Linked DNA regions of Homo sapiens. The protein of the gene in region 1 purifies or fractionates together with the protein of each later gene. This does not show direct contact. Each region holds a gene or a part of one and is shown in the gene's direction. Other genes may lie near its edges.

Evidence for each region.
Region 2: the proteins of SERBP1 (region 1) and SDHA purify together in Homo sapiens (affinity purification with mass spectrometry; 2 studies listed by BioGRID). This does not show direct contact.
Region 3: the proteins of SERBP1 (region 1) and GSPT1 purify together in Homo sapiens (affinity purification with mass spectrometry; 2 studies listed by BioGRID and IntAct, with this or other methods). This does not show direct contact.
Region 4: the proteins of SERBP1 (region 1) and STK26 purify together in Homo sapiens (affinity purification with mass spectrometry; 2 studies listed by BioGRID and IntAct, with this or other methods). This does not show direct contact.
Region 5: the proteins of SERBP1 (region 1) and DNM1L purify together in Homo sapiens (affinity purification with mass spectrometry; 3 studies listed by BioGRID and IntAct, with this or other methods). This does not show direct contact.
Region 6: the proteins of SERBP1 (region 1) and GTPBP10 purify together in Homo sapiens (affinity purification with mass spectrometry; 2 studies listed by BioGRID and IntAct, with this or other methods). This does not show direct contact.
Region 7: the proteins of SERBP1 (region 1) and ZNF593 purify together in Homo sapiens (affinity purification with mass spectrometry; 2 studies listed by BioGRID and IntAct, with this or other methods). This does not show direct contact.

Annotation. Positions count from the first base shown.
Region 1 is NC_000001.11:67,413,403-67,417,975, reverse strand, and holds part of SERBP1 (SERPINE1 mRNA-binding protein 1), read left to right. Parts: intron 1-2,636; coding exon 2,637-2,810; intron 2,811-4,573. UniProt on the Homo sapiens protein: Ribosome-binding protein that promotes ribosome hibernation, a process during which ribosomes are stabilized in an inactive state and preserved from proteasomal degradation.
Region 2 is NC_000005.10:228,320-232,892, forward strand, and holds part of SDHA (succinate dehydrogenase [ubiquinone] flavoprotein subunit, mitochondrial), read left to right. Parts: coding exon 1-14; intron 15-2,556; coding exon 2,557-2,681; intron 2,682-4,573. UniProt on the Homo sapiens protein: Flavoprotein (FP) subunit of succinate dehydrogenase (SDH) that is involved in complex II of the mitochondrial electron transport chain and is responsible for transferring electrons from succinate to ubiquinone (coenzyme Q).
Region 3 is NC_000016.10:11,873,908-11,878,480, reverse strand, and holds part of GSPT1 (eukaryotic peptide chain release factor GTP-binding subunit ERF3A), read left to right. Parts: intron 1-900; coding exon 901-1,074; intron 1,075-2,305; coding exon 2,306-2,395; intron 2,396-2,551; coding exon 2,552-2,720; intron 2,721-4,573. UniProt on the Homo sapiens protein: GTPase component of the eRF1-eRF3-GTP ternary complex, a ternary complex that mediates translation termination in response to the termination codons UAA, UAG and UGA.
Region 4 is NC_000023.11:132,060,229-132,064,801, forward strand, and holds part of STK26 (serine/threonine-protein kinase 26), read left to right. Parts: intron 1-3,204; coding exon 3,205-3,261; intron 3,262-4,573. UniProt on the Homo sapiens protein: Serine/threonine-protein kinase that acts as a mediator of cell growth. Modulates apoptosis. In association with STK24 negatively regulates Golgi reorientation in polarized cell migration upon RHO activation.
Region 5 is NC_000012.12:32,716,819-32,721,391, forward strand, and holds part of DNM1L (dynamin-1-like protein), read left to right. Parts: intron 1-1,824; coding exon 1,825-1,945; intron 1,946-3,845; coding exon 3,846-3,977; intron 3,978-4,573. UniProt on the Homo sapiens protein: Functions in mitochondrial and peroxisomal division.
Region 6 is NC_000007.14:90,352,782-90,357,354, forward strand, and holds part of GTPBP10 (GTP-binding protein 10), read left to right. Parts: intron 1-34; coding exon 35-228; intron 229-1,676; coding exon 1,677-1,768; intron 1,769-2,304; coding exon 2,305-2,449; intron 2,450-2,925; exon of another isoform or gene 2,926-4,573. UniProt on the Homo sapiens protein: May be involved in the ribosome maturation process. Complements an ObgE(CgtA) function in E.coli ribosome maturation. Plays a role of GTPase in vitro. When missing, disorganization of the nucleolar architecture is observed.
Region 7 is NC_000001.11:26,168,111-26,172,041, forward strand, and holds ZNF593 (zinc finger protein 593), read left to right. Parts: upstream 1-1,797; 5' UTR 1,798-1,873; coding exon 1,874-2,073; exon of another isoform or gene 2,074-2,307; coding exon 2,308-2,370; exon of another isoform or gene 2,371-2,464; coding exon 2,465-2,606; 3' UTR 2,607-2,763; downstream 2,764-3,931. Other genes in the region: uncharacterized protein C1orf232, read right to left, coding at 306-389; transmembrane protein ZNF593OS, read right to left, coding at 3,079-3,225, 3,507-3,551. UniProt on the Homo sapiens protein: Involved in pre-60S ribosomal particles maturation by promoting the nuclear export of the 60S ribosome. Negatively modulates the DNA binding activity of Oct-2 and therefore its transcriptional regulatory activity.

The DNA of each region.
Region 1 (4,573 bases):
AAAACAACACTTTAACTTTCACATGTCTTCATTCTCGTGACAAATGTGAGGTAGTTAAGGGGAAGGAAGAAACTATTTACAAATGGAGAACTGTGTTACCGTGTTATTGACAGAGCTCAGAGTTTCTGTTTTCTGCTCCTCATTGTCTGAGTGCTCTAGAAAAAAGGTCGGACACAGTGGCTTACACCTGTAATCCCAGCACTTCGGGAGGCTGAGGTGGGCAGATTGTTGAGTTAAAAGTTTGAGACCAGCCTGGGTAACATGGCAAAACCCTGTTTCTACAAAAAATATAAAAATTATCTGGATGTGGTTGCGTGCACCTGTGGTCTCAGTTACCTGGGAGGCTGAGGCGGGAGAGGATCACTTGAGCCCAGGAGGCAGAGGTTGCAGTGAGCCAAGATAGCATCACTGCATTCCAACCTAGTTGACAGAGCAAGACTGTTTCAAAAAAAGGAAAAAAGAAAAAAAAAAAGGATCCCCCTGCCCTGACTTTATCCCAGTACAGTTTCTTGGTATCTGCAGGGGATTCGTTCCAGGACCCAGAGATATTAAAATTTTCAGATGCTCATGTCCATTATATAAAATGGCATAGTATCTGCATATAGCCTAAACACGTTTTCCCTATACTTTATTTTTTATTGTTTCTATTTTTTAATTTAAAATATAGAACAATTTACAGTTTTGCGTGTCATCCTTGTGGGGATCATGCTAATAATCTTTGTATTGTTCCACTTTTAGTATATATGCTGCCAAAGTGAGCACTCCCTCATACACTTTATTTTGAGACAAGGTCTTGCTCTGTCATGTAGGCTGGAATGCAGTAGCATGGTCACAGCTTACTGCAGCCTCAACCTCCCCGTGCTCAAGCGATCCTTCTAGCTCAGCCTCCTGAGTAGCTGGAACTACACACCTGTGCCAACTCCTGGACTCAAGCAGCCCTTCTGCCTATGCCTCCCAGAGTGCTGGGATTACAAGTGTCAGCCACCACACCTGGCCTACTTTTTATTGTTATATGGTTGGTTGGTTTTATTTTTTTCTGAATATTTTCGATCTGTGGTTTGCAATAAATTGAAAGCATTGGTTTGAAATAGCAAACATTTAAAAATCACACAATTAGTATATATAATTGATTCTAATTTGCTGGTGTTTTGTGAATTTGTTTTTATGTTTCTAGCCTCCTTTAAAATTTGTATTAGAACATTCTATTGCCTTACAGTGTGTTGGTTTGGTACAAAGGAGTGACATTTAATACTAGTATGAGTTGATGTAAGGGGTGAAAACATGGATAAAAACACAAAAATTTATTTGTACTTTAAAGGCTAGTTATTAACAGCTGTAATATTTTAAGTTGAGTCTAATGGAATTGTAATAGTACAAGTTCTAATGAAAGAACAAAATGTTCTTTATCCCTTTAGAAAAGAAGATTCCTTAGATGTATTTAGGAAAAGAGGAAAAGAAAGCTGTACTTTCAAGTCCTATAAGTACAGTTTTCAACTAGAAGATTAAAACCCATCCCAAGCGTACAAGAAGACATCAGGCATGAAGCAGTATAGAATTGTCTGGCTTTTTGCTTTTTTCCCCCAGACTGGGTCATGTATCTTAAACGCAAATAGAAAAGAGGATCTGGATTTCACAAACATGACTTCATTTTTAAGAAGTTTCTAGCTGGGCATGGTGGCTCATGCCTGTAGTCCCAGCACTTTGGAAGGCCAAGGCCAGCGGATCGCTTGAGCCTAGGAGTTTGAGACCAGCCTGAGCAACACTGTGAAAACCTGTCTATAAAAAATACAAAAAAATTAGCCAGGTGTCATGGCATGTGCCTATAGACCCAGCTACTTGGGAGGCTGAGGTGGGAGGATCGCTTGAGCCTGGGAGGTGGAGGTTGCAATGAACCCAGATCGTGCCACTGCACTCCAGCCTGGGTGACAGAGTGAGACCCTGTCTCAAAAAAAAAAAAAAAAAAAGGTTCCTGTGACACATTTAAGGTGTGGTTTTATTTGTGCATAGCTTTACAAGATTCCCCTCTTTATGTAAAGTGTGTAGTGTTTCACTTGAATTTGTAGCTCTCCAATTTGTGTAGAAAAACGTAGTGGTTGTGTATTAACAGAAAATGCTTCTGAGAAGTTTATATCTAGTAAGGTCTTTACCCTAGTTGTAGTTGGAAGAGTGTAGAACAGAGTTTTTCTTTCTGAGTGTTCTTTTTAACTTCAGTGTTAGTGCTAGTAGTAACCTTATATGTCATCTCTCCAGAGGTCTTCATCAAGGATTCACATGGCAGTCCTGATCTGAAGGGCATATTTAAAATGTACTTGTCCAGATTTCACTGCTAAAGATTATGATTCAGTAGGTCTAGGATGGGCTTCAGCCGTTTGGGTTGATTGTGATAGCATACATGTCTTTAGTTGAGGACTGCTGGTATTACCTGCAATTTTGAGATAGAGAAAAGTGCAGGAAAATCTTCCTCCAGGATCACTAAAGCTGAGCCCTAGCTTGTTACCTGTGGAGGCATTGAGACATTTGTTCACAGAAAGTACAGTTTGGATTTTTGGTTTTTTTTAGAAGAAAGCTCATTATTTAGAAATTTTGCAATGTTACTTTTCTACTAATAACACAATCATCTTCACTTATATTTTTAGGCTCATGCTGAAGATTCGGTTATGGACCATCATTTCCGGAAGCCAGCAAATGATATAACGTCTCAGCTGGAGATCAATTTTGGAGACCTTGGCCGCCCAGGACGTGGCGGCAGGGGAGGACGAGGTGGACGTGGGCGTGGTGGGCGCCCAAACCGTGGCAGCAGGACCGACAAGGTAATTTAAGACTTTCTTTTCCTTTTACATAATTTAAGGACCTCTTATAAGTCACTGGCTGGGTCAGACTTATGTCACTTTTGGGAACATAAGTAGAAGTAGTAGCAGTGTCTTTAAGAAACCGCATGTTAGGTTATATTTATGTTTAAAGCACTTAAATGCCTTTTTGTGTAGTGCTGTTAGTAGTGTTAAGTTACCACCCTTTTGAGTTCTTTCTAGGTGCCGGTCATGGTGCTGGGCTAGGCATTTTATGTACTTAATGTCATTTAATTCTTGTTACTGTGATGACATTCTCATTTTCCAGATGAGAAAATTCTGGTATAGTGAATCAGGTTAACTCTTGGCCTTTGCTAAGGCTTACCTGAAAACCAGTCTGTTCACTTTGATAATTCCTAACTGCTTTTTAGGTCTCCACTTAATAACCATTGTGTTCCTTGTATAATTCCTCTTACGACACTTAGGATTGTTGACACTTTTTTCTTTTACTAGACTCTTCTGTGAGAGCTGGGATTCATTTTTGGCTTACTTTCTATAATCTCTCCAATGCCTTGAACAGTATGTGGCACAAAACAAGTTCTTAGAGAAATATTTTGGTGAATTCCCAAGTAATTGATAGATTTGAACTCAGATCTGATGCTTGGAAACAACCATAATGTCCTCCTAAATTCTCAACACCTTACACACAAATTTGGGGACCCACCTACTTGATTGAGTCTGTTTTTGATGATTACAGGGGTAACTTACCATTGCCAGTGTAATGATACTTTGTTCCTCCCTCTAAGACCAACCTTTTTTTTTTAAGGTGGTGGTTGTGTTGATGGGCTTTTCCCATACTTTCTTTTTTAGTTCTGTTATTTATACTTTAGGCTATAAAGAGCAGTTTGGATTCCTTTTTTCAGACTTTCAACCTTGATGATTATTGCTACTTAGATATTAGTTCCTTAGCATGCTTTCACATTGGTGCCATTCTTATTTAGCAAGTGGAAAAAGTATAAGAATACTGAACAATGCGAATTCACATACATAATTGCTTATGAATCTACTTGTATGGTTTATTGGAAAAAGTAAAACAACTGGGCTGGGCGCACTGCCTCACGCCTGTAATCCCAGTACTTTGGGAGGTCTGGGTGAACAGATCACCTGAGGTTGGGAATTTGAGACCAGCCTGGCCAACGTTGTGAAACCCTGTCTCATTAGCCAGGTGTGGTGGCACATCCCTGTAACCTAGCTACTTGGGAGGCTGAGGCACAAGAATCACCTGAACCCAGGAGGTGGAGGTTGCAGTGAACTGAGATTATGTTACTGCACTCCATCCTGAGCAACAGAGTAAGACTGTCTCCAAAAAAAAAGAGAAAAAGAAAACAACCCATATTATTACTCTGGAATGAAAATAGGCCTTGGTAGAAATTTAGGACAGGGCTCATTGCAAATACTTGTAGTTTTTTTGTGATCCATAATTTTGTCTTGATACATTTTACCTAGAATTTTAACAGTAGGATTTTTTTTTTTTTTTTTTTGAGATGGAGTCTCACTCTGTTTCCCAGGCTGGAGTGCAGTGGCACAGTCTCGGCTCACTGCAACCCTTGCCTCCCAGGTTCAAGCGATTCTCCTGCCTCAGCCTCTTGAGTAGTGGGATCACAGGTGCCTGCCACCACACCCAGCTAATTGTTTATATTTTTAGTACAGACAGGATTTCACCATGTTGGCCAGGCTGGTCTCAAACTCCTGACCTCAGGTGATCCACCCACCTTGGCCTCCCAAAG
Region 2 (4,573 bases), on another chromosome or scaffold:
GTTGTTGCCACAGGGTAGGAATCTCATTTCTACTTTATTTTGTTTATAAAAATGAATAAATTTCATTTAGAGTTTCTTTATTTTAATGAAAATAGAGGCATTGTAGAATAACGGTTTAGACACAGGCCTTGATATAACCATGTGAGGGTGATGGCCTTTCCCAGCCGTGGTTCCTCACCTGTAAAGGGTGAGGACAGGAGCACCTGCCTCAGGGTGAGAAAGCATGGTCCTCAGTAGATGGTAGTGGTTGCCCTCAGGTTCACAGCTTACCTCTCCCAATTTAGATGAGGGAACTGTGGCCCAAAGAGTCAACATGGGGTTTTCTGGCAAAATCTCTCTTGTTTTAGTGGGTACTGTATTGATACTGATTCCTCGGGTGGGTAAGTCCTTCTTCTCCACATGATGAAAATAAGTAACTTTAATTTTATACACTGTCAGTTACTTTAACCATTTTAAAAGTTAAAAAGTGTCAGTACAGCCAAACAAAAAATCAGCAAAACTACAGGTTGGGAAGAAATATTTTCCAAACCATATGTGTAATAATATCTTACTATCTAAAATAGCAAAAAAAAAACCCTACTAAAAACAACCTACTAAACCCTACTAAAAAACAACCCTACTAAAAATGGGCAAAGGACTTGAATAGATATTTTTCTAGAGAAGACATACAAATGGCCAATTGATGTATGAAAAAATGCTCAACGTCACTAAGCACCAGAGAAATGCAAATTAAAACCCCAATGAGATATCATCTCATCTCGCTCCAGTTAGAATGACTGTTACCAAGAGGACAAAAGAGCAAGTGTTGGTGAGGATGTGGAGAAAAGGGAACCCTGTGTGCTGTTGGTGGGAATGTAAATTAGTACAACTATTACGGAAAACTCTGGAGGTTCCTCAAAATTCATAGGACTACTATGTGCTCCAGCAACCCCATTTCTGGGTGTATATCCAAAGGGCATGAAATCAGAAGCTCAAAGAGACACCTGGACCCTATGTTCATTGCAGCATTATTCACAATACCCGAGATATGGAAACAACCTAAATATGTGTTGGTGTTTAATGACAATGTGGTGTGTATACACAACTGAATATTATTCGGCTATGAAAATGAAGGAAATCCTGTCATGTGTGACAACGTGGATGAACCCAAAGTCATTATGTTAAGTGAAACGAGCCAGGCACAGAAAGACAGATACTGCATGTCACTCATGTGGAATCTAAAACAGTCACAACTCACAGAAACAGAGTAGGACAGTGGTTGCCAGGGGCTGGGGGAATGCAGACTGTGGCGATGCTGATTAAAGGTGTAACTTCCCGTTACAAGGTGAAGTTCTGAAGGTCTAATATACAACATGGTGGCTATAGTTAACATTATACAGCATGGTGGCCAGAGTTAACATTATACAGCATGGTGGCTATAGTTAACATTATACAGCATGGTGGTTAGAGTTAACATTATACAGCATGGTGGCTAGAGTTAACATTATACAGCATGGTGGCTAGAGTTAACATTATACAGCATGCTGGCTATCGTTAACATTATACAGCATGGTGGCCAGAGTTAACATTATACAGCATGGTGGCCAGAGTTAACATTATACAGCACGGTGGCTAGAGTTAATATACAGCATGGTGGCTATCGTTAATATTATACAGCATGGTGGCTAGAGTTAACATTATACAGCATGGTGGCTAGAGTTAATATTATACAGCATGGTGGCTATCGTTAATATTATAACTTGAAATTTGCGAAGATAGTAGACGTTAGGCGTCTGTATCTCCAAAAAAAGGATAATTGTATGAGGTGATAGATGTGTATTAACTTGATTGTGTCATCATTTCACAAAATAAATCATCACGCTGTACACCATAAATATATAGTTTTTTTTTTAAATTCATCAATCATACCTCAGTAAATCTGGGGGAGAAAAAAATCCATAAAAATTTTAAAATTTTCATTATAAAAGTAGTATATGCTTATTGGGGAAACCTTTTGAACAGCACAAAGCTAAAATACAAATAGGGCCAGGTGTGCAGTGGCTCACGCCTGTAATCCCGGCACTTTGGGAGGCCAAAGTGGGAGGATCACTTGAGGTCAGGAGTTCGAGACCAGCCTGGCCAACATGGTGAAACCCCATCTCTACTAAAAATACAAAAATTAACTGGGCGTGGTGGTGCACACTGTAATCCCAGCTACTCGGGAGGCTGAGGCGGAAGAATCACTTGAACCTGGGAGCCGGAGGTTGCTGTGAGCCGAGATCGCACCACTCTACTCCAGCCTGGTCAACAGAGTTAGATCCTATCTCAAAATAAATAAATAAAATACAAATGGAAGTCCTTTCTTTGATCCCAGGCTTCTATCCTACCTGTGCAGGGTAGCAGCACCAGTGGCGCGGCCCCTAGTGATATGTGTGGGGTGTGCGTGAGTAGGGGGTTGTGTGTGCACAGCACTGAGAAGACGGTGCTGGGGGCTGCCGTGTCCATTCTGTGATCTCACCAGATAGGAGGTCCAGATGTGGGCCGCTGTGTGCAGTCACTGCTCTCTATTGTTTCCAGAGGCTACGGGCGCACCTACTTCAGCTGCACGTCTGCCCACACCAGCACTGGCGACGGCACGGCCATGATCACCAGGGCAGGCCTTCCTTGCCAGGACCTAGAGTTTGTTCAGTTCCACCCTACAGGTAGGGCAGGACGCCTTGCCCGGCAGGTGTTTGGCTTGTGTGTGTCTTGTAAGCATGTGATGCCTACTCATTGCTCTTCCATAGTTTTATGTAATAACATGGTTTTGAAGATCAGCTTCCTCAGCTCTCAGGTCCTAACTTCAACGTCATTTACCTAAGGAGACTTTTCCCACACTCCCCTTCCCCTAAGGCAGTTTGGGCCACCGTCTTATGTATTTCTCAAGAGCGCTAAACCCTGCCTTGGTGATACTTAAGCCAGCAGTAAAGCAGGGATTGAGGCCGAGCACAGTGGCTCACTCCTGTAGTCCCAGCACTTTAGGAGGCCAAGGCGGGCGGATCACCTGAGGTCAGGAGTTCGAGACCAGCCTGACCAACATGGTGACACCTCGTCTCTACTAAAAATACAAAAATCAGCTGGGCGTGATGGCGTGTACCTGTAATCCCAGGTACTTGGGAGGCTGAGGTGGGAGGAATGCTTGAACCTGGGAGGCAGAGGTTGCAGTGAGCCGAGATCGCGCCACTGCACTCCAGCCTGGGCAACAGAGTAAGACTCCGTCTCAAAAAAAAAAAAAAAAAAAGTAAAGCAGGGATTGTTCAGTGTCCCTCTTCGCAACGAGGTCGTCAGCTCCTCGGGCAGGCAGGTCTTCTCGTTAGCTGTGGTGCTCCATGCCCAGCACATGGTAGGGTCTCCACCGGGGTTTACTGAGTGAACATTCTGAGAGCTGGGAGAATGCCATGGAACCGAGAAGCAGCACAGGCAGACTTCAGCTTTGTAGGAGAACACGGAGCTTCTGTGACAATGGGATGTAAAGTTAGGACGCAGCCGTGACAGAACCCCATGTGACATTGGGCGCTGGGCTCAGCCCACGTGACCACTGAGAGAGCTTGTCGTGGGGAAGATGAGCTCGTCTTGGGGACGTCTGACGGTTGAGGTTACGAATGTGCAATTCGGAGACATTAACTCAGAAATGACAGTTGAAGTCTTGAGTTTGGAGGAGGTTCTTCAGAATGAGTCAGAGACAGACACACACCTGCCTCTTGTTTGAGGTGACTTGTCCTATACTTTTCTGGGTTGCTTTTCTGACCTGTGGACGATGGAGACCTCTGAAGTGGTGCCAAAGAACCAGACCTGTGTCTTCTCTTTCTCTGTCAGTGTCAGCTTTCTGATCCCTGGAAGGGATGAAAATAAGAAATGAATTTGTTGTAGTGTTTTTTTTTTATTTGTTTCGAGATGGGGTCTTGCTCTGTTGCTCAGGCTGGAGTGCAGTGGAGCAATCTTGACTCACTGCAGCCTTTGTCTCCCAGGCTCAAACGATCCTTCCACCTCAGCCTCCCAAACAGCTGGGACTACAGGCATGTGTTACCATGCCCAGCTAATTTTCGAGGGTTTTTTCGTTTTTGGTAGAGACGGGATGTCACCGTTTTGCCCAGGCTGGTCTCAAACTCCAGGGCTTAGGCCATCCTCCTGCCTCGGCCCCTCAGGGTCCTGGGATTATAGCCATGAGCCACTGCACCCGGCCTGTTGTATTTTTTATTACTGTTTTTAATGAATAAAATGTCACTGAGCCCCTGAATTCCCTCTGTAATTTGCTTAGAGCTCCACTGCTCATGCTTTGTCTTCAGTATGTGAGAAGTAACCACAGAAAAAAGAGCATTGAAACTTAGAAAATCAAAAGACAGACAAGAATCACATTCGTTTTTTAAAAGCAAGATTGCCCTTTTTGTATACTAATAAAAATTGTAGCTTTCGAAATACATTTAGTTTAGGGTTTTTGATCTCCTTTGTTAAAATTCGAGAGCTTGGCATGCCCTGTTTCTCATCGCACTGAGGAGTCACAGAGCCGCTGTTTGGAGCACAGACCGCCGGACTACCCAGGTTTGGGTTTGAGCTC
Region 3 (4,573 bases), on another chromosome or scaffold:
GCGGGGCTAAAGGCATGTGGACTACCCAGCTCCGTGGACTATTTTGTTAGAAACAAAGAGTTTAGGCCGGGCACAGTGGCTCACGCCTGTAATCTGAGCACTTTGGGAGGCCAAGGTGGGTGGATCACCTGAGGTCAGGAGTTTGAGACCAGCCTGGCCAACATGGTGAAACCTCGTCTCTACTAAAAATACAAAAAATTAGCCAGGCATGGTGGTGGGTGCCTGTAATCCCAGCTACTTGGGAGGCTGAGGCAGGAGAATGGCTTGAACCCAGGAGGCAGAGGTTGCAGTGAGCCAAGATCGCACCACTGCACTCCAGCCTGGGCAACAAGAGCAAAACTCTGTCTCAAAATAAAAAAATAACAATGCTATGCAGCCATCATCACTATCTAATTCCAGACCATTTCATTACACCAAAAGGAAATGATGTATTCATTAAATAGTTGATAGACTTTTAAAGCTTAGTTCAATAATTTTTAAGTAGTGCATAATTCCGATATTTGGAGATTGATAGGTAATAGAAGACAGGTTTATTAAATCCTTCATAGAATTCCATAATAATAAAAATTATATCCATAAAACTGAAATCCAAATATTAAATTGTGTTTTCGATTTTGAAAAGGTAAAAAAAGGCAAATGCTAGTGTATACAGTGTTCTAGTTGGAAATGATTAGAATGTGATATTTAAAAGGTGACACGTTAATACTTTAATTGGCAGTTATACTTCTAGGATATGATTTTTGCTGATCATATCTAGGCTAAGATTTTATGTCATACAAACATAAGTGTTTACAGTCAAATCTTGCAACTCTTTATTGAGCAGACAGACATTCAGATCATTTTATGTTGCGTAATGCAGTGAATGTGTCAGAAAACCTCCAGTCTTGTTTTCTTTTAAAGCACAACGTGGAAGTTCTTGGAATACTTTCCGATGATGTAGAGACTGATACCGTAGCCCCAGGTGAAAACCTCAAAATCAGACTGAAAGGAATTGAAGAAGAGGAGATTCTTCCAGGGTTTATACTTTGTGATCCTAATAATCTTTGTCATTCTGGACGCACATTTGATGCCCAGGTAAACAAATTATTGTTGTTGTCATAGTGGGTTTTAATGTCTAAATGAAATTAGAATATCAGTGCCTTTTGTCCTGATTATTTGTGACATGCCAGTTAACCCATCTTAGTGTAGAGAAGGGGAATGGAAATATTATAAGCCACTTATATATCATAACCACAATAGGCACCTCATACAAGGTCTTCAAGCTGGTACAAGTGCTTACTGGATAAGGAGTATTCTTTGTAAGTTCCTTTTTATGTTTGATCTCCTGATGATACATTCTACAGTATCTAATATTCACTTTGACCAGAGCACAGTTACTGTGGAAGTCATGGTTTATGTGCTCATTGACAGCACATAGCTTTCCAGACAAGAAATCACACAGGTTTCCCTGTTATTAACAATCTAACCTCCCTGGGAGAATGACAGAGTAAGTGACTGGTGTGAATAACAGAATTTTTTAAAGTTCTTTTCTAAGGTATGACAACTAATCAAGTTAGATTTTGATGCCAGATGTAAGGTTGTTTACTTTACTGGACCTTGGATATTGAGAAATGGATAAAGCTGGATAAGTTTACATCTAGGTAGCTTCTGAGCGGTAAAAATTAGCTTAGTTCCTTGGGGAATATAAGGAAAGTCTTCCCAGATAAGAAAGTTGGCCTGCTGTCTTTTGTTTTGTTTGGAGATGGGGTCTTGCTCTGTCACCCAGGCTGGAGTGCAGTGGCGCGATCTTGGCTCACTGCAACCTCCACCTCCGGGATTCAAGCGATTGTCCTGCCTCAGCCTCCTGAGTAGCTGGGATTTAGGCGCCCACCACCACGCCTGGCTGATTGTTTTGTATTTTTAGTAGAGACAGGGTTTCACCATGTTGTCCAGGCTGGTCCTGAACTCCTGGCCTCAGGTGATCCCCCCGGCCCCCCTGCCGCCTCGGCCTCCCAAAGTGCTGAGATTACAGGCGTGAACCACTGCGCCCAGCCAGCCTGCCGTATTTTGAAAGTTGACCAGGGACTTGCCAAGAAGATAAATACAGGATAAGATACTGAAATTCATGCTTTGAGTTCAAGCAGCCTGACCCATCCTGTGAACAAAATTAGTAAGACAAACCTATCACCTCTAACACAAAAATCACTTAAGTTGATGTCCTAGTGAGATGGTAACACTAATTCTTGGGATTTATATGGCGCTTGAGAACATTGAATTCTTATTTACCCTAAGGCTAAAGATAAGAATGTGTGTGTTTGTTTGACAGATAGTGATTATAGAGCACAAATCCATCATCTGCCCAGGCTATAATGCGGTGCTGCATATTCATACCTGTATTGAGGAGGTGGAAATAACAGTGAGTTTAAGATAATTGGTTTATTTCTGTTTTAATACTGTTTTATCTTCATAATTTCTAATCAGCAACAGTGATGCACTTTTATTTCTACACCTGTTCTTAAAGATTATTTTATTTGGCATTATTCTGATTTTCTCATACTCTTTTCTTGGTTAGGCCTTAATCTGCTTGGTAGACAAAAAATCAGGAGAAAAAAGTAAGACCCGACCCCGTTTTGTCAAACAAGATCAAGTATGCATTGCTCGCTTAAGGACAGCAGGAACCATCTGCCTTGAGACCTTTAAAGACTTCCCTCAGATGGGTCGTTTCACCTTAAGAGATGAGGGTAAGAGCTTTTAAACTGACGTCTAGTAGTATATCCAGGATACCTAGCTTTGGTCATCTTCATCATCTCAGTACAGTACACATTGCAACAGGTTCACAGAAAACTTCGATTCACATTCTTATTCGTATGAGTGTTTTATGAGTTGAATGTATTGAACAGAATTGACCACGTGCTTTAGTAGTAATGCCAAATCTAGTAATGCTCTACGTGAAGAATCTTAATTTTGATGTTTTGTGAGTAGTGGATTTGGAGGGCTATTTTGTTTACTAAGATATTTCTATGATGTAATCCTTTGTAATATGTCTAGCGATTAAAAGGAACATAGAGATTGATTTTTTTTTTTACACCTAATTTTTCAGAGGTCTAATCTTTGTGACCTTTTGTGTGCATCCATTTCTGCCTACCTCTGGGTGACGCAGAACAACTAACATTCCCATCTTGGGGTCATGAAGTTCTTTGGCATAAAAACAAAATGATTGTTATGAAACGTTTCCTTATGAGCTTTTAATATTCCTGTCCTTTTCCTTTCCCTTTCCCTTTCCCTTTCCTCTTCCCTTTCCTTTCCTTTTTTTGAGATGGAGTCTCGATCTGTCACCCAGGCTGGAGTGCAGTGGCACCATCTTGGCTCACTGCAAGCTCCACCTCCCAGGTTCACGCCATTCTCCTGCCTCAGCCTCCCGAGTAGCTGGGACTATAGGTGCTGCCACCATGCCTGGCTAATTTTTTGTATTTTTGTAGAGACGGGGTTTCACCACGTTAGCCAGGATGGTCTTGATCTCCTGACCTCGTGATCCGCCCGCCTTGGCCTCCCAAAGTGCTGGGATTACAGGCGTGAGCCACCGTGCCCGGCCCAGCTGTTAATATTTCTAACTTAGATAACCATTTTAAGACTATAGAAGACTTTACATAAAACTTTATAGTTCCATTGAAATACAGAATAGTCATTTCACATGTTCATTCCAATTCCATTTAGCAAAAACTACTTTGTATCTACAAAGTGTCAGGAACTGTGCTAAGCCCTGGTGATGAATACAGTTCCTGAACTTTACATTGGATGAAATTGTATAAAGACAGTGTTTATTTTACTTTAAAGGCCCAGAACTCTTCTGGTTGATAGTAAAACTGGTTATTGGGTTTATCTTATTAATATAACAAAATGATAGTTTTAGTTTACCACTCAGAACCTGATAAAATCAGGAAGACAGAAGAAAAGCAATTAATGTAGCAGGAATTCTTAACCCTAGAATTATTTTTTCCTAAAAGCTAACTTGGCTTTAAAAAAAAAAAAAAAAAAAAAAAAAAAAAAGCTAACTTGGCTTTTAGGTTTTCCACAAGACCCAATGGGTTTTGTATCCTTTCAGTCCACAGGATTACTACCAGAAGGACGTGTTCACTGCACTGTAGTCAGTGGTGATTGCTGTGCCTTTTCACAGTTACTTAAGGATAGGTTTTGGGATTTTTTTTTTTAGCAGCTTTATTGAGATACAATTTCCATAATATGAAATTGACCTGTTTTAAGTATGTAATTCAATGAATTTTAGTATGTTTACAGAATTGTACAACCATCACCATATACTAATATTAGAACATTTAGAACACCTAAAAAGAAACCTTACACCTGTTCATAATCACCCCTTATTCCCACCTCCACCCCAGGCAACCATTTTTCAATTTGTCTTTTATAGACACTCCATAAATAGAATTATAAATTATGTGGTCCTTTGTCTAGTTTATTTTACTTAGTGTGATTTTGAGGTTCAACCATGTAACATGTTATTTATTCCTTTGTATCACTGAATAGTACTCCACTGGGTGGATATTCCACAAATACGGATATTCCCTTTTCTTATTTT
Region 4 (4,573 bases), on another chromosome or scaffold:
TTCATATTAATAGCCTGCTTATCTGTGAGTACATCAAGTGCAATAACCCTCAAACTAGGGAGGTAGCATTTGAACTAAGTCTTGAGAATGATTTTGATAGGGGTTGGAAGGTGCAAGTGGGGTAGGGACACAGCATTCCAAGCTGGAGGAAAATGACTCAGAAGTGGTAAATTTTCTAGCCATATTCTTGGCAAGATGATCTCTACTGTCACTTCCAGTTTTATAAAGTCTTATGTGCTGTATGTTTTTTTTAATCAGGCAAAATATACTTAACACTAAATTTGCCATTTTAAGTGTACAGCTCTCTGGCATTGGCTACATTCACATTGATTTTGTGTTTTTTTTGTTTGTTTGTTTTTTGGGTGGTTTTTTTTTTGTTTTGTTTTTTTGTTTTGCTTTTTTTTTGTGACAGGGTCTCACTCTGTCTCCCGAGCTGGAGTACAGTGGCGCAGTCTTGGCCCACTGCAGCCTCCACCTCCCAGGTTCAATTGATCCTCCCACCTCAGCCTCCCGAGTAGCTGGGACTACAGGCATATGCCACCACACCTGGCTACTTTTTTGCACTTTTTGTAGAGATGAGGACTCCCTATGTTGCCTAGACTGCTCTCAGACTCCTGGACTCAAGCGATCCTCCCACCTCGGCCTCCCAAAATACCAGGATTACAGGCGTGTTGTGCAGCCCTCACCACCACTGATTTCCAGAACAAATAAGGATTCCTTATTTTCAGATCTAGAAATTGAGTAGTTGTAATTTTAATGCTTAATGGTATATACTACTTTGTAAAGTCACATTTCAAGCTTTCTATGAACACGTTTTACTGACAGACAGTTGGCAAGTTTCTGTTTTGAATTAGTACAAACAAAAAGGCACACATTGTTTTTAACTTGGAAAACAGGTGCTTTCATTCATGCAGAACTGCAAAATAGGCAGGCATGTTTTATAAGATCTTTTTCTTTTAAATGTCAGGTGAATGGGAAGCTCTCTGAATTCATATGATAGAGTATAGTACTTGTTAGAAACAAACTTGTGGCAGAAGAAACAATTTTTAACCTATCCACCATTGTAAGAACCACTTTTTTCTTCTCTTGAAAAAAGTATAAAGGTACATCAGAGTCACAATTCTCAGGTTGCGAGTGCCTAGGTTCTATACACAAATACAAGTTATATGAACCTTTCCTGGAACTCCTCTTCCCTCACCAGTATTGTGGGAATTTATTTCCTCTATTTCCTAATGTAGACTTCACTGCTAACCAAGACTCTCAGCTTTCTGCTCACAGTGCCTGCTGGCCATCTATGTCAGGACAGAGTGGATGTCAAGATTAGTGGAGGAAGTGGTAGGGGAATATTGTTCCTCCCTTTCTCTTACAAATTCTACATAGTGTCAGCATATGGAAAGGAGAATCATTTTGTCTTAATTAACTGAGCCCTCCCTTCATGATCGCTAACCCTAGGCCACATCCCATTCCCCACACTACAATGTCAGTTCCACTCTGATTCTTCAACCCTCTCCCATCCCCTAAGCACTCATCATCATGTCACTGGGTTCCATTCTCTGCCTTGATAAAGTCACATCCTCATGGAGATGCCTGGAAATTTTAAATTGGACTCCTGAATACCTCCCAGGGATTTTTGAGTTTGAGGGCTACTGGCAGTAGCTTGAGAATCTTCACCCCGCAGCTGGGGTTGTAAAGGTGAGAAATGTGTTTCTGGCATCCCAAGTTGAGGCACCATGCTGAATATATTTTCCTACTTGAAATATTGTTAAGATATAAATAGTAGTGAGTTTCTCTGGTACTTTTTATGCTATACTACGAATGAATACATTTGTGTGAAATTGTCTTTTGGGAGGACTACCCCAGGAACTTAGACATTATTTTTATGGGAAAATGCTTGCTTTTAAAATTCTGAACATCTTACTTAAAAACCAACTTTTGGAACACAGTCCAGTCACTACTTGGCTGCTGCCAGTATAGTAAAGCCAACCATTCTACTTCCAGTCAGCTCTTTGGTCCCACAAAAATTCAGAGAATACCACTCATGAAATGGTATGGAGAGAGAGGTGTCCCTTGTATTTAAGCTATAGCTAAAATAAAAAGGGTTTAATGGTTTATTCCAGTGTTTAACTGATGGTACTGAATGGTATGTGTGTGTGTACACCTGTTTTAGAATTTGTATACATATATTCCTCCCAGGAGCCCCATTTCCTCTTGTTCAGCTCACAGGGAAGTTAATTCCACCTGGAGAAAGCACAGATTTTTAAAGCTACACTCTCCCTTTTTCTTATCCATTTACATCAGAGGTAAAATGAACAATATTCTTTCTAGGTTCCGTGTGTGCCAAAAATGCCCATTAACCGTAGCTGATAAAAGTTTGAAGTACATCAAAACAAATGAAAGCCAACAACTGAAATAAGGCAAAATATCCATTGTCCTCAAACTCAAACCCAAAATTTCTACAAGCCCTCATTTACCTCCTCATTCTTTAATGTAACTATCTTTTCTTTCCAATATCATTCAAGATAATTATTTAAAGCTTTGTTTTTTATAAAAATTACTAATAGTTCAACAATAACAAACAGTACTTTTATTTGTTTAGCTATATCATAGGCAAAAAGGTATGCGGGTAGTCTAAGCTCAGAATTTTAATTTGGAATGTTCTATGGAAAAAATATATTCGGGGTTCCCAAGCAACCATTTTTAAACCTACATTTTAGAATCTGTTCTTTATTTTTTTAATTTTTAATTTTTGTGGCTACAAAGAAGGTGTAAATATTTATGGGGGTACATGAGCTATTTTAATAAAGGCATATAATGTATAATGATCACATCAGGGTACATTTACTCTCTGTGTTACAAACAGTCCGGTAATACTTTTCTACTTATTTTTAAAAGTATAATTAAATTATTATTGACTATAGTCACCCTGTTGTGCTATCAAATACTAGATCTTACTCATTTTCTCTAACTACTTTTTGTACCCATTAACCATCACCAACTCCCCCTCCCTACTATCCTTCCCAGCATCTGGTAACCATCCTTCTATTCTCTATCTCCAAGGGTTCAATTGTTTTAATTTTTAGCTCCCACAAATAAATGAGAACATGCAAATAGAATCTGTGCTTTAGTATGTGAGATTTAACATTTTTGCTAGTATGTTATTTTGGCTCAGGTTTGTAATTATTAAATTGTTTCATGGCTTTACAGGGGTCTAAATTATGGATAATAATGGAATACCTGGGCGGTGGTTCAGCACTGGATCTTGTAAGTATTTTAAAATAGTTACACACAGATGCAAATGTGTGCATATGCACATACCTTAATTTTTTAAATTGAAGATTAATGGCTTTTGAGCACGCTAAGTGGTTGCTTTAGTTAATATGTTCAAATTAAATTCTTTTTTCATGACCTCTACCTTATGTAGGTACAGATGTATTGTACGTTTGAACATGTTGCTGGCATTCTAAGACTATATAAGAAATGCAAATAGCTTAATAAAATAAAGTCTCCCAAATTAGAAGGGGATGTGTGTATCCATTGCTGTCAAAGTTTGACTTTTGCAAGCTTATCCCTGAAAAAACTGAGTTTTCTTAGATTTTTAAAAAATATGTAATTGAGATAACTGTCACTAAAAGTGTTTTTTATGAACTGAATGTTTGTGTCCCCCCAAAATTCATATGTGGAAATCCTAACCCCCAATGTGATGGTATTAGGCGGTGGGGACCTTGGGACCTAATTAAGTCATGAAGGTGAGTTCTCATGAATGAGATTCGCACCCTTACAAAAGAGGCCCCAGAGAGCTCTCTGACTTTCTTTCCACCACGAGAGGGTGCAGTGAGAAGAAGGCCTTCTGGAAACCAGGAAGAGTGCCTTTACCAGACTCGAATCTGCCAGCCCCTTGATCTTGGACTTCTTTCCCAGTCTCCAGAACTGTGAGAAATATTGTTTAAGCCACCCAGTCTGTGGTATTCTGCTATAGCACCTGAATTGACTAAGATAGTGGTACTAGGGTTCTAAACAAGGTTGGCCTACAGATCCAGTTCTTCACAGAGTTCTCTCTGCCCCTCTATAGGTTATTTGGAAATGTGATGGCATTTGGGTTGTCACAATGACTTAGAAGTGCTCCTGCCATTTTTGTGGTCATGGATCAGAATGCTAAAATCCTGCAGTGTGCAGGAAAATTCAACCCAATGAAGATGCATTTACACACAGAATGCCTTTGAGAAACACTGGTTGTTCCCCAATTCAGTGTGATCCTATCAATGTTGAGTTTCTTTCCCTTCCTTAAAAATCTTTATTAATATGATACTATGTTTTAAAATTCAGTATGACTTATGAGAGGCAACTTAGTGTAGTAGAATGACCACTGGGCTGGCCTGGGGTGTTTGAGGTTATAGGTCTGGCTCTGTGCCTGTGAACCAGACACAAACTTCCTGGACGTAGGTGTTCTATAAAACAAAGAAGTTGCACTAAGTTATTTCTAAGTTCCCTTCCATCTTTAATATTATATTTTTTTTATTTGCGTGTTTCTGCCTTAGAAATTATAGAGTATGCTGTTTCTAAGAAAGTGTTTTGA
Region 5 (4,573 bases), on another chromosome or scaffold:
TTTCTAGTTTTTGAAAATTATGAATAAAGCTGCTGTAGATATTTGCATATAGTTTTTTATATGAACACTGGTTCTCACTTAACATGGTTAAACACCTAGGAATGGGACTGCTAATTTAACTTTATAAGAAACTGCCAGACTGTTTCCCAAAATGACTACACCACTCCCACCAGCAACGTGTGAGAGTTCCAACTGCTCTGCATAGTGTACAATTTTACCTATGGTATTTTTCAGTTACAAATATATATACATAGGTATATATATATATTTTATATATATATTTTATATATTTATATATATTTTATATATATACCTATGTATATATATTTGTAACTGAAATATATATACTATAAAATATATATAGTATATACTATATATATTTATATATACTATAAAATATATAGTATATATTATATATATTTTATATATAGTATATATAGTATATATATACTATATATTATATATACACTATATATTTTATATATACTATATATTATATATACACTATATATTTTATATATACTATATATTATATATAGTATATATAATATATATACTATATATAATATATAGTATATATAATATATAATATATATTTTAAATATATACTATATATATTTTAAATATATACTATATATATTTTAAATATATAGTATATATATTATATATATATAGTATATATATATATTTTAGACGGAGTCCTGCTCTGCATAGTGTACAATTTTACCTATGGCATTTTTCAGTTACAAATATATATACCTAGGTAGATATATATATAAAAAATACATATACCTAGGTAGATATATATATAAAAAATACATATACCTAGGTAGATATATATATAAAAAATACATATACCTAGGTAGATATATATATAAAAAATACATATACCTAGGTAGATATATATATAAAAAATACATATACCTAGGTAGATATATATATAAAAAATATATATACCTAGGTAGATATATATATTTGTAACTGAAATATATATACTATAAAATATATATAGTATATACTATATATATTTTATAAATATACTATATATAGTATATACTATATATATTTATATATACTATATATAGTATATATATAAAATATAGTATATATTTTATATATATATAAAATATAGTATATATAGTATATATATTATATATAGTATATATAGTATGTATAGTATATATAATATATATAGTATATATATTATAAATATATACTATACATACTATATATACTATACATATTTTATATATATACTATACATATTTTATATATATACTATATATATTTTATATATAATATAGTATATATATTTTATATGTATAGTATATATATATATTTTAGATGGAGTCCTGCTCTGTCACCCAGGCCGAAGTGCAATGGCACGATCTCAGCTCACTGCAACCTCTGCCTCTCGGGTTCAAGCAATTCTCCTGCTTCAGCCTCCCGAGCAGCTGGGATTACAGGCGTCTGCCACTGTGCCTGGCTAATTTTTGTATTTTTAGTAGAGATGGGGTTTTACCATGTTAGTCAGGCTGGTCTCAAACTCCTGATCTCAGGTGATCCACCCGCCTTGGCCTTCCAAACTGCTAGAATTACAGGTGTGAGCCACCGTGCCCGGCAAAAATGTTTTAAAAAATTATACACAATGTTTAACATTATTTTTAAAAAAGCACTGGTAAGTAAGGCATTACCAAAATGATGACAGAGGTAATACTAAGTGGGATTGTAGATGAGGGTTTTCCTTTATTAACACTAAATAGTTGTATTTAATGGATCATTTTCTTTCTTTTCTTTGCCCTTTTTTCTTTTTGCATTTACCAGGTCGCAGAACCCTAGCTGTAATCACTAAACTTGATCTCATGGATGCGGGTACTGATGCCATGGATGTATTGATGGGAAGGGTTATTCCAGTCAAACTTGGAATAATTGGAGTAGTTAACAGGTTAGCAGTTAGAATGGGATAAGAATTGGGATAAGCATTCTTAGAATGGGATAAGCATTCTCACTTCAGAGCAAGTCTGAATTTCTAAAATCTGTTTGAAATGTGATGCTGTACTATATTTTTTCTCCCTTTTATTATGATCTTGGTATTGCTAAAGAATCCGTTGCCCTAAAGGGAGAAAAGAGAGAGAATTTTTTTTTTTTTTTGAAATAGGGTCTCTCTCTGTTGCCTAGGCTGGAATGCAGTGGCGTGATTGTGGCTCATTGTAGCATCAACCTCTGGGCTCAAGTGATCCTTTCACTTCAGCCTTTCAAGTAGCTGAGACTATAGGTGTGTATCACCACACCTGGCTAATTTTAAATTTTTTTGTAGTGACAAGGTCTTGCCATGTTGCCCAGGCTTGTCTCGACTTCCTGGGCTCAAGCAATCCTCCAACCTTGGTTTCCCAGGTGCTGGGATTACAGGCATGAGCCACTGTGCCTGCCCCATAGACATTTTTACTGGAAAATGTTTCTAAAGTAAGCAATACCACAAAATGGAAGAAATGTTGTAATAGCCAGGCTTTAAGAATTCTTGCCTATCATGTTAAGCTATGTATGAGGAGGTACTGGGTAAGGGAAAAATTATCTAATGTGCACCCAATCGAGAAAGAGTTTAAGGTGGCAGGATTTTAATAGATTGGTTTTAATCCCTGGCATTAGTGATGCTTCTGTGTAATTGCCAGGATGTGACTTGGAGAAATTGTATTAAAGGTATCCTAATTTATAAATAGTTGGTATTAAAAACTGGGAAAAGGAAACTAGTATTGAGTGTCTAATTAAAGGTGACAAGATTTTAATAGATTGGTTTAATCCCTAGCATTAGTGATTCTGTGTAATTGCCAGGATGTGACTTGGAGAAATTTTATTAAAGGTATCCTAATTATAAATAGTTGGTATTAAAAATCGGGAAAAGGAAATTATTATTGAGTGTCTAATTACGTTTTAGACACTCTACTGTGAGCAATTTGCAAATGGTATCTCTTGGAATCCTCACAGCATCCCCTGAGGTAGGTGTTGATGTCTATTTTATAATCAGAAACCTCAGGTTATACATTTAACCAAAAGTCACGTGGGTAGTGAAAGAGCTGGATTCGGATGAATATCTCTTTTAGTCCAAAGCCTTCATATGGTAGGAAACACTGAAATTATCATGAAATCTGAGTTATAGTCCTAGTTCTTACATAAACTAGATACAACGTAGGTTTAAATGACACCTAATGTCTTTGGGTCTCAAGCCTTTAGAAAATGAAAATGTTTTTACTGCCTGATACATAAGATCCATTCCAGTTGTCTGCTTCTATTTTAATGTCCTTCCATTCCAACCCTACTGTCATTCTCCCATCCCCACTGTCATTCTCCCATCCCCACTCCCAATTCCAGCTGTCTCCTTTTTCAGGTAAGGAGGTGGCCTAACACTGTTCGTTGTTTGTAGATGATTGTTCTTCAAGTTAACTTAATTATTTTTGGGAGAAATTAGTTCCCTGTCCATGGATAAAATATACAGTTGACTAAGATACTCTTATATTTTTATACCTGTCTATACCTGTTACTTATTGTTTTTGTCTATAGTTAATGGTAATAATGAGGCCTACTCTATTTAGGCACTAGTTACTTACAATTCACTTAGTTCAAGTCTTGGCTATGCCAGTTAGTGTGTGACCTGGGGTAAGTTAGTTTTTGTGAGCCTCAGTTCCTTGCTATACAATGGGGTAATAATACCTGCCACATAAAATTATTGTGAGAATTAAATAAAACAGTCCCTGTCAGGTATTAGAGAACAATGCCTGGTGCTGTCATCATCTAAGGTAGGAAGAGGACAACAGTTAAGCTGAATAGTTTCGTTATTTTTTCAACCTCAGGAGCCAGCTAGATATTAACAACAAGAAGAGTGTAACTGATTCAATCCGTGATGAGTATGCTTTTCTTCAAAAGAAATATCCATCTCTGGCCAATAGAAATGGAACAAAGTATCTTGCTAGGACTCTAAACAGGTAATTTTTTTACCTTTTGGAAATGAGATGTGTTTGTTTTTACCAATTGGTGTCTGAGAGGGTTCATTTTCAGTTCCTTACATTTTCATACTGTTCCTAACAGCTTCACTTATGGTTTCTTATATAGTAGGTTCCTGAAGAGTAGATGTCTCTGTTTTTATTGGGGTGGTTGACATTACATCATCACGTAGTCTAGAATGAATGTACAAGTGATTTTAAAATGTTTTAATTACGAAAATTTTGACAGTTAATTTAGTTTTGTGGCTAGAACTAGAGATGACTTCATTTCCACTTTGCATTTCAGGAACTGATTAAAATTTGTAATTTTCACATTATCTATTCTTACCTTAGAATGTGTTTTATTTACCAGGAAAGGGAGATGGAAAAACAAAGAAATAGAATGTCTTTTATTTCTATTCACTGTAGAAATAACTATACGTTGGATTCTGAATACCCACTGATGTGTGGGGACTAGAAGCCCTTTCTAGATGATTTATAAATGACTGAAGTGGAAGCCATTTTCTCTTACTTTTATCTTATTCCCTAAAGACTGATAGACTTGGATCTTAATAAGGTTGATTTTCACTTTGCTGGGT
Region 6 (4,573 bases), on another chromosome or scaffold:
GGTATACAAATATTCTTTCTCTTTTTTTTTTAAGTATGGAAATTTCATCGATAAGCTAAGACTCTTCACCAGGGGAGGATCCGGTGGAATGGGTTATCCTCGTTTAGGTGGAGAAGGTGGAAAAGGTGGTGATGTCTGGGTTGTAGCCCAGAACAGAATGACTTTAAAACAACTTAAAGACAGGTATCCTCGGAAACGGTTTGTGGCTGGAGTAGGAGCAAACAGCAAGTAAGTAATTACTGAATGACTTAAATTTTAGAAAATCAAACCCTTCTGGAAATTTTTTTTTTAGTTACAAAATAAAAACTTAATTGTTAATTTGAAGTAAATTATTTCCTGTATTTATAACCAAGCAAAAGCCTAAAATGTCTCAACTCATAAAAGACTGATACTAAAGAATATTTCAGAGTTTTAAAACTTTCTGTCCGTTTCTTTTCCCAATGTCTATCTGTATTCTTTTTGCACTTCCCCTGTAGAAACCGATAATTATCTGAATTCCCACTGTTTTCTTCTAAAATTATCTTTGACAACCTTTTAGAAAACTTTCAGTCTTAACCATGCTACTCTACCCCACCACCATTAGAAGGCAAGATAACCACTATTAACCTTTTCTTGACTTTTCTAAGACTTTTCTGTGTGTTTACACAAATGCAATTATGTGCCTAAAAGTTTAGAATACAAAAATGAGAGTACAGTATTTTACAATCTGCTATTTTTACTTTTTTTCACATGTCAAAATTATTCAGAATACCTGCATAATAAATAACTATTTTGTCATTTGTCTATTTAGGTTATTGTTGATTTTTTTTTCCGATTATAACCACAGTGCAGCATTCTGTGTAGATACTATTTTACATGTTTGTTCAATTATTATTTTGATAAATTCCCAGAAGTAGAATTACTAAAACATTTGTACTAATTTTTTCTTTTATGAGCAGTTTAAGAGTAGCCAGATTTGCCTTCTATAATGTAAGTACTCTCATTTGAGGTTAGTTTTTTAAAAGCTTTGCTATTTGGTGGATTTTCTTTTTTTTTTTATAGATTCATTTTTTCTTTTTTTTTTGAGACAGAGTCTCATTCTGTTGCCTAGGTTGAGTGTAGTGGGCACTATCATAGCTCACTGCAGCCTCTACCTTTCAGGCTGAAGTGATCCTCCCACCTCTGCCTCCCAAGTAGCTGAGACTACGGGTATGTGCCACCATGCCCAGCTAATTTTTAAATTTTTCTTTTTTTGTAGAAATGGGGTCGTGCTATGGTGTTCAGGCTTGTCTTGAACTCCTGGACTCAAGAGATCCTCCTGCCTCCGCCTCCCAAAGTGCTGAGATTACAGGCGTGAGCCACCACGCCTGGCTTTTTCTACCCTATTTGTATTGTAGCAATAATCTCTTCATTTCATGGTTGCAATATTTTAGTTTCGGGTTAAAATGACCTTTGGTGGTTAGCTTAGTAACTTAAATCATTACTTAATGCCATTTTAGTGGGATATAATAGTCTAAAATGCAAAGAAATAATTAGGGATAATTTTAGTTTTTTTAAACCCCGTGTTTGACCATTTAACATCTGCGTTAACCAGAGAATTGATTGCTACTCTTCTTTGTAAACCATTTTGTGTGTATGTGTGTGTGTGTATATATACACACACACATACATACATATATATACTTTTTTTTTGGTAGAATTAGTGCACTGAAAGGCTCCAAAGGAAAAGACTGTGAAATCCCTGTGCCTGTGGGTATTTCAGTAACTGATGAAAATGGTAAAATTATAGGTGAGTGTACTATAACTCCAAAAGTTGTAAAAATGTGCACGTTTTCTAAAATGAAACAATGGAATAGCTTCTCTTGAGTTTCAGAAGATTTTTTAACTAACAATTTTAGCTACTATTCTATAAGAGAGCATTTTTAAAACTTATAAAAGTTAAATTGACTGCTAGATTTAAGATTGTTTTAAAGATGTTACAGTTCTTACTTGGTCTTAAAATATATAACTAGGCTCTTTTCAATTGTTTACTGAAGTGTTTTTCTGGGGTCAAACTTTTAATAGATTTGTAAATTGGAATTTCCTGGACTGTTTTTCTGAAAGAACAATATTACATTAATGATTCTACTTATTAATTATAGATTTGTAATTGAGAATTTCCTGGCATGTATTTTTGAAAGTAAAATATTACATTAATGATTTCACTTACTAATCTATAGATTTGTAATTTTGCATTTCTTTGCCTGTATTTCTGAAAGAAATATATTGCATTAGTGATTTCACTTATTAATCTTTGCTGTAAGTATTTCTCTCCCTCTTTTTAAGGAGAACTCAATAAAGAAAATGACAGAATTTTGGTAGCTCAAGGAGGTCTTGGTGGTAAATTACTTACAAATTTCTTACCATTGAAAGGCCAGAAACGAATAATTCACCTTGATCTAAAACTTATAGCTGATGTAGGCCTAGTAGGGTAAGTATCGTTCATATTTTTATTATTATACTTTCAGAGAGAGAGTTCTTGAATAGAAAATAAATGTAAATGGTAATTTGGGGCCATAATTATTTCTAATTTATGGAATTTGTGTGTTGTGTATGTACTTGGAAAATATGCTGCTAAATATTATTTTCAAATTGCCAACACAGAGTTTCATAGTTATTGCTTATTTATAAAATTAAGACCAGAGCAATTGAATAGATCAGTGGGAATGTTAGAGAATGCATAAAGAAAGAAAAATCAATCAAATGCAATATTACAAGATGGTTAAATAATGTTACCAGATATTAATAATAAATCCAAACAAACCGTATTATTATTAAAAATATATAGAAGGAAATAAACAGGGAAAAATGGTTGACATAACTCTTTTGGGTCTTAATAGAGACATTAAAGTATCGTTAATCAAATGGCTAAAGACCAGTACAGACAATCTCAATCCTCAGACTTACGCACTGTTGCCGCCAAATTGAATCCTGCTATGACTGTATATCCTTCTTGCCTCTGCTTAGGATCTATCTAGTCTCAGCAATGTAGGCCTCACAAGAGTGTCCTCTTCCACCAGCCTCCATTCTTTCATTAAATAATGCTGTTTAGCTGTGGGGTTTGCAGTGCAGCTGCCCACTGGAAGGGGATAGATAGTAAGATACAGAATACATAAAGGAAGAGAAAACTTCAATTTGCATTTGCTCTCTCTCCCCCATCCCCCCTCCCTCCTATCCTCTCCCTCTGGCCCTATCACAGTATTACACAGTTATTCAGATGGAAAGCTTAAGGACAAGATAAGGAAAACTGCCTTATTACTGTCCTACTCCAAATTCCTAGTTCTATTTTTTGCTTCCCCATAGCTTCTTTCTAAGTTCTTTTCATGTTCCTCTTCAGTCATCTCACTGCTTCTTTACCAGACTCTTAAGTCTGTATCCCTCGTCTTTTGCCCTGCCTGACCAGCCACTAGAGCTTACCACCATTGGTTTAGGGTTCACAGAGGCCCCATTCCTGCTAAAATTATAACAAGGAAAGATGTGATCCTGGCTTGCCATTTACATTTATTTTTTTCAATAAAGCACAGTTACAAGAGTTATTAGATGTAAGTTCTATAATCCTCTATATTTTTAGGAACATTATGGGCTTAATAGGGTCTTATGGACAAGACTGGCAGTCCAGCCAATCACAGTTGCATTTTGCATAAACATGTGTTTCAAGTTCTGAAGAGACAACTTTACAGTCTAAGAGGAGCCTAGCACGGCTTAGTCATAAAAGTGGAGTGGCATGGAGGACTCAGGTTAGACTATTTAGGTTAGGATCTCAAATCCTCTGGAGGCTGGCCAGCTGGTCTTGGGTAAATTACACAGCCTCTCTAAGCCTTTGTTTTCTCTTCTTTTTTTCTTTTCTTTTCTCTCATTCTTCCTTCACTATAGTTTTTTGCTTTTCACCACGTCATTTGTTTTCTCATCTTTAATAGTGTATGGAGATAAGTCTTTCCTTAAAATGTTGGTGGGTAAGATAATGCATTTACAGCAGAATACATGCTTTGCATTTTTGTACGTTCAATGAATTGTAGCTGCTATCTTCATCATCATTATATTGCCAACTTACTGGAAAACTGCATATAATGAAATACTAGGCTTTTCAGAAGTAGGTTTGAAATTTGTCTGTAATTAAAGCATCAAGATTCTTAAGCATATCAAACAAGAATGGGGGAAAAAGATTTTTAAGTGGAATGTTTAACATATTTTCTAGTGTTTTTAAATTAGGCAACTATTCTTGAAGAGTTACTACTATGAATACTAGCATAAGTAGATATCCTTTTAGCTGGTTTTGGAAATGGACTGAATCACAGAAGAAAGTTATTGTACAACTAACAGATTTGTGCTGCTGTTGTCAGATCTGATCTTTGCATAGGTTGGATTTTAGCCTGTAAAATTTTCACTGGGTACTTTTCAAGAAAAATTTCAAATATCTGTTATTCAGTCATTAGCATCATCTTTCTATTCATACTTTGATCTTCTTGGAAATAGTTGCTTGCATTATGTGCTCAATCATTATGAAAATATGAGGATGTTGGAAACAAGCAAGTCCAGCTAGTGATAATTATGGATA
Region 7 (3,931 bases), about 41 Mb from region 1:
GTCCAGCTAAGTGTGCCCGTGTGCCTACTGCCCACTGGTCCTAGAAGAATCTCTTCCATGTGGCAGCCTCGAGATCTTTGGAGACAGTGGCCACTCCTCCCATGGTCCCTAAGTCTTTTCTTCCTCAGTTTTCTTGAATGTCCTGGCTTTCTGATGCTGCACCATGGTTTTTACCATCCCTGAATGTGGCATCTGCACAAATGTGGCCCCCCCACCTCCAAGCCTATCCTGTGCCCCACTTCATACTGCTCATTCCTGCTGCCCCTCTGCACATGCTCCACCCACCATGCATGGATGGCACCCACCTCCTCTGCCAGGTCTTCTTCAGATTCCCCACTCAGGGTCTGTAGCACTTTGGACTTGTAGGTTTTCCAGAAGGCCTGGTTCATGGCTGCAGGGGGAAGGGGCCTGGCACGCAAGCACAGGAAGGTGGTGGCTCAGTGGATACCAGTGAGTCTGGCTCTAGGAACTTGGTGAGGCCAAGAGCCTGTCCGAGGGATCCAGTGACTTCATTAAAGATGCACCAGCCTCCCCAGCTGGCACAGTGCCCAGGAGGTGAACCTGATCCAAAGGAGTCGGGGAGTGGGGGATGGAACAAGCTTCTGCCACCTTAGCCCCTTGTCTTGACCCATATTGGCCAAGAATAATGAAGTCATTTGTCTCTAGAGAGGCTTTCTTCCTGGGCCTAGGAGTACTTGAGTTGTTCATCTCTTAGCATGCCTCCAGGAAAATCTTCTTCCATTCACAAAATCCTGAGGTCTGGGACCCACACTGGAGCCCCTGTGACTGTAGTCATACTAGTTGTGTCCTCAGCAGGGCTCCACCCTGTGTCCCTACTTAGCCTCAATGAACTGGAGCAGGAAGGTCCGCAGGCCCCCAGTGGGCACCTTGGGCTTACATTTCACTCCTTTGTCTGGGCTGGAAACTGATTCCTCTCCCCAGGGATACACGTGCCTGTCTCCTTGTTTCCTGGCAACAGACTCCAAAGAGCTGGAGCCCCTGAATTATTGCTAAGCTCCTCTGGCCCCTTCCAGCTGAGTTGGCTCTGGCCAGCCTGGGAGGCACCAGGCTCCTGTGAATGGGGAAAGGCCCTCTAGCCACTCTGAGCATGCAACACCTAGGCCTTTGCTGCCAGCCCACCTCTGGGAGCCCAGGGCTTAGAGAAAGGAGGCAAAGATGGAGAGGTCCTTCTATGAGTACTTGTGAGAGGAACTGATCCCTCTGGAGTCTGGATGCCTGAGGACTGCACTCTCTGGGGAGGAACACCCTTCACGGATTTGGTTGGGGTCAGAGAGAGGATGGAGACTCAAGGGAATAACGGGAGCCCGGAGAAGTGAGGGCTTTTTCAGGGACTGGAGATTATCTCGGGAAGCCCTGGTGGGGCTGGGATTCCAAACTTATTCACTCTCAGTCATTTACTAATTTATTCATGACACAGACATTTATCAGTGCTTTCCAGAGATAAAGCATCCCACCCCCACCGCGGAGTCCAAGGTCTGGGAAACAGGAAGGGATGACAGGAGTACAGGTTGGCACTGATACTGGTTGGACCAGGCCAGGAAGAGCAGGGCAGCAAGACGGCCCCGAAACCCCCAGGCGCACGCACCACCCCGCGCCTCCCCAGCGAGGGCCCGCGGGGCCATGCCCTTCAGTGGGCACACTTCTGGGAGCCCGTCCTGAGCTCGGTCACTGACGTCGACGGCCGCCTGGCGGCGCTCGAGCCGCTGGCCGAGAGTGACGTCATCAGAGGCGGTCCGGCCGAGCCTGCCTAGCCCCCCGGCGTGGCCTGACGTAGCTGATCGGCCCGGAAGTGCTCACACGTGTGCTCCCTGCCCTGCTCCTGGCCCCTTGGCCGGCCGGGCTGTTTCTGGCCATGGGTCGCTCCCGCCGGACAGGCGCGCACCGAGCGCACTCTCTAGCCCGGCAGATGAAGGCGAAGCGGCGGCGGCCGGACTTGGATGAGATTCACCGCGAGCTGCGGCCTCAGGGATCCGCACGACCCCAGCCCGACCCAAACGCCGAGTTCGACCCCGACCTGCCAGGGGGCGGTCTGCACCGCTGTCTGGCCTGCGCGTGAGTCCCGGACGAGCCCGGCCTGGGGCGGAGGAGGGTCCGCGGTACCGGCCGGGAGATGTGAAGTTGAAGCCCCAGGCAGCGCAGAGTCTTCTCTCTTGGGACCCGTGGGTCCGCCCGCCTCCCGTTTCTCAGACCCGGATCCTGGCGTCAGGGACAAGCTAGGGCTAGGGAGATAGGTGCACTTGGGAGACTATCACCTCCTCACTCTCCTTCTCACTTCCATTCCTACAGGAGGTACTTCATCGATTCCACCAACCTGAAGACCCACTTCCGATCCAAAGACCACAAGAAAAGGTATGAAGGAGTAAGGAGAGGATTGATGGATGGGTGCTCAGCAGATAGGGCTCTCACCTGGTCAGCTCCCAACTCCTGTTTTTCTTTCTCCCAGGCTGAAGCAGCTGAGCGTCGAGCCCTACAGTCAGGAAGAGGCGGAGAGGGCAGCGGGTATGGGATCCTATGTGCCCCCCAGGCGGCTGGCAGTGCCCACGGAAGTGTCCACTGAGGTCCCTGAGATGGATACCTCTACCTGACATGGCCTGAAGATGCAGGGCAGAGGAATTGCCCATGGACAGTGACGCAAGGACTAGGCTGGGAGGGAGCGTGCCAACCCCTTTTGCCTCTGGGTTTGGGGAGCGGAGGGCCTCTTCTTGGTGCCCTGCCCCAAATAAAGGAACTGGACAAAGAGAACTTGCCTCCAACTCTAACTTCCAGGCCGCTGTCTCAAACTCCTGCCCTGGAAGGGCTTCTCTACTACTTTCTGTACACCAGGCCTAGGGTGTCTACTCCCCACTTGGTCTATCTCTGCCTTCCCTCTGAGGTCCTAGCATCTGAACTGGAGCACCCAGATGGAGGCCTGATGCAGTGTGGGGTGGCGGGAGTGGGATCAGATTACTCTGTCCTGCTTCTGACAGAGACTGATCCCCAGAAAAGAAGGCTTCTGAGATTGCACCCCCCTCCCGAGTCACCTACCCCCAGCATCCAAGTGAGAGTCTCTCTTCTTCGTTACGGGGCCCGTGGCACCCGCCGCTGCCCCACCATCTTCCAGACGGCATAGCAGGAGCCACCCAGGCCGAGGACAGCTAGCACTGTAGCCACAACTCCTGCCAGCAGACTCCGGGGCTCTGCCTTCAGCTCACCAGCTACCTGCATCTGGAGGTGCACAGAGGGTGTGCCTCAGGGGTCAGTTGAGACTGCCAGGAAGGTGGGGAGTGGGAAAGGGCTGAGTAGATGTAGCTAGGGGAAGGAGACATGGACGCCGGTCCTGCCCCAGGGAGATTCCACCCCAATCCCTTTCGCCTCACTGCCCATCTGGGCCTGCCTGCTCAGGCGGCAGGGAACGTGACAGCCTGGCTGTTGGGGGTGTCAACCCAGCTATGGTAGGGGGAGGAAGGGGTCAGTCGTGCCAGAAACCGTTGATCAGGGGTACTTACCTGTAACACCCGGAAGTAACCAGGGGTCAAGCGTCGAAATCGCATGGTGGGCGGCACTGGTCTCCCTGGCGGCCTGTAGGGTGGGAGCGGACGTGAAGACCAGTGGTCTTCATGACACCAAGAAGTGGAAACTAGGGTAGAGGGGTCTCTGACCTTCCACATACGCAAGACCCAAGCTCTCAGAGGATGCTCACCCGCGCCTGCCTGCCCAGGTCTGGCAGGGGGCGGAGCAACTGGACCTTTAAATCTGGTCCCTTCCCCCACTGCCTACCATCCTGCCAGCCTTAGAAGCAGCTGTCAAAAGAGATCAGCATCAGGCTTGAGCGGCACCTCCCCCACTCTCCGAGGAGGCGGGTCCGGTTAGGCAGGAGAGGCCTTGGCTGGCAGTGCTCAGGAGTCCCAGGCCTGGACCAGGTACTGGGCGG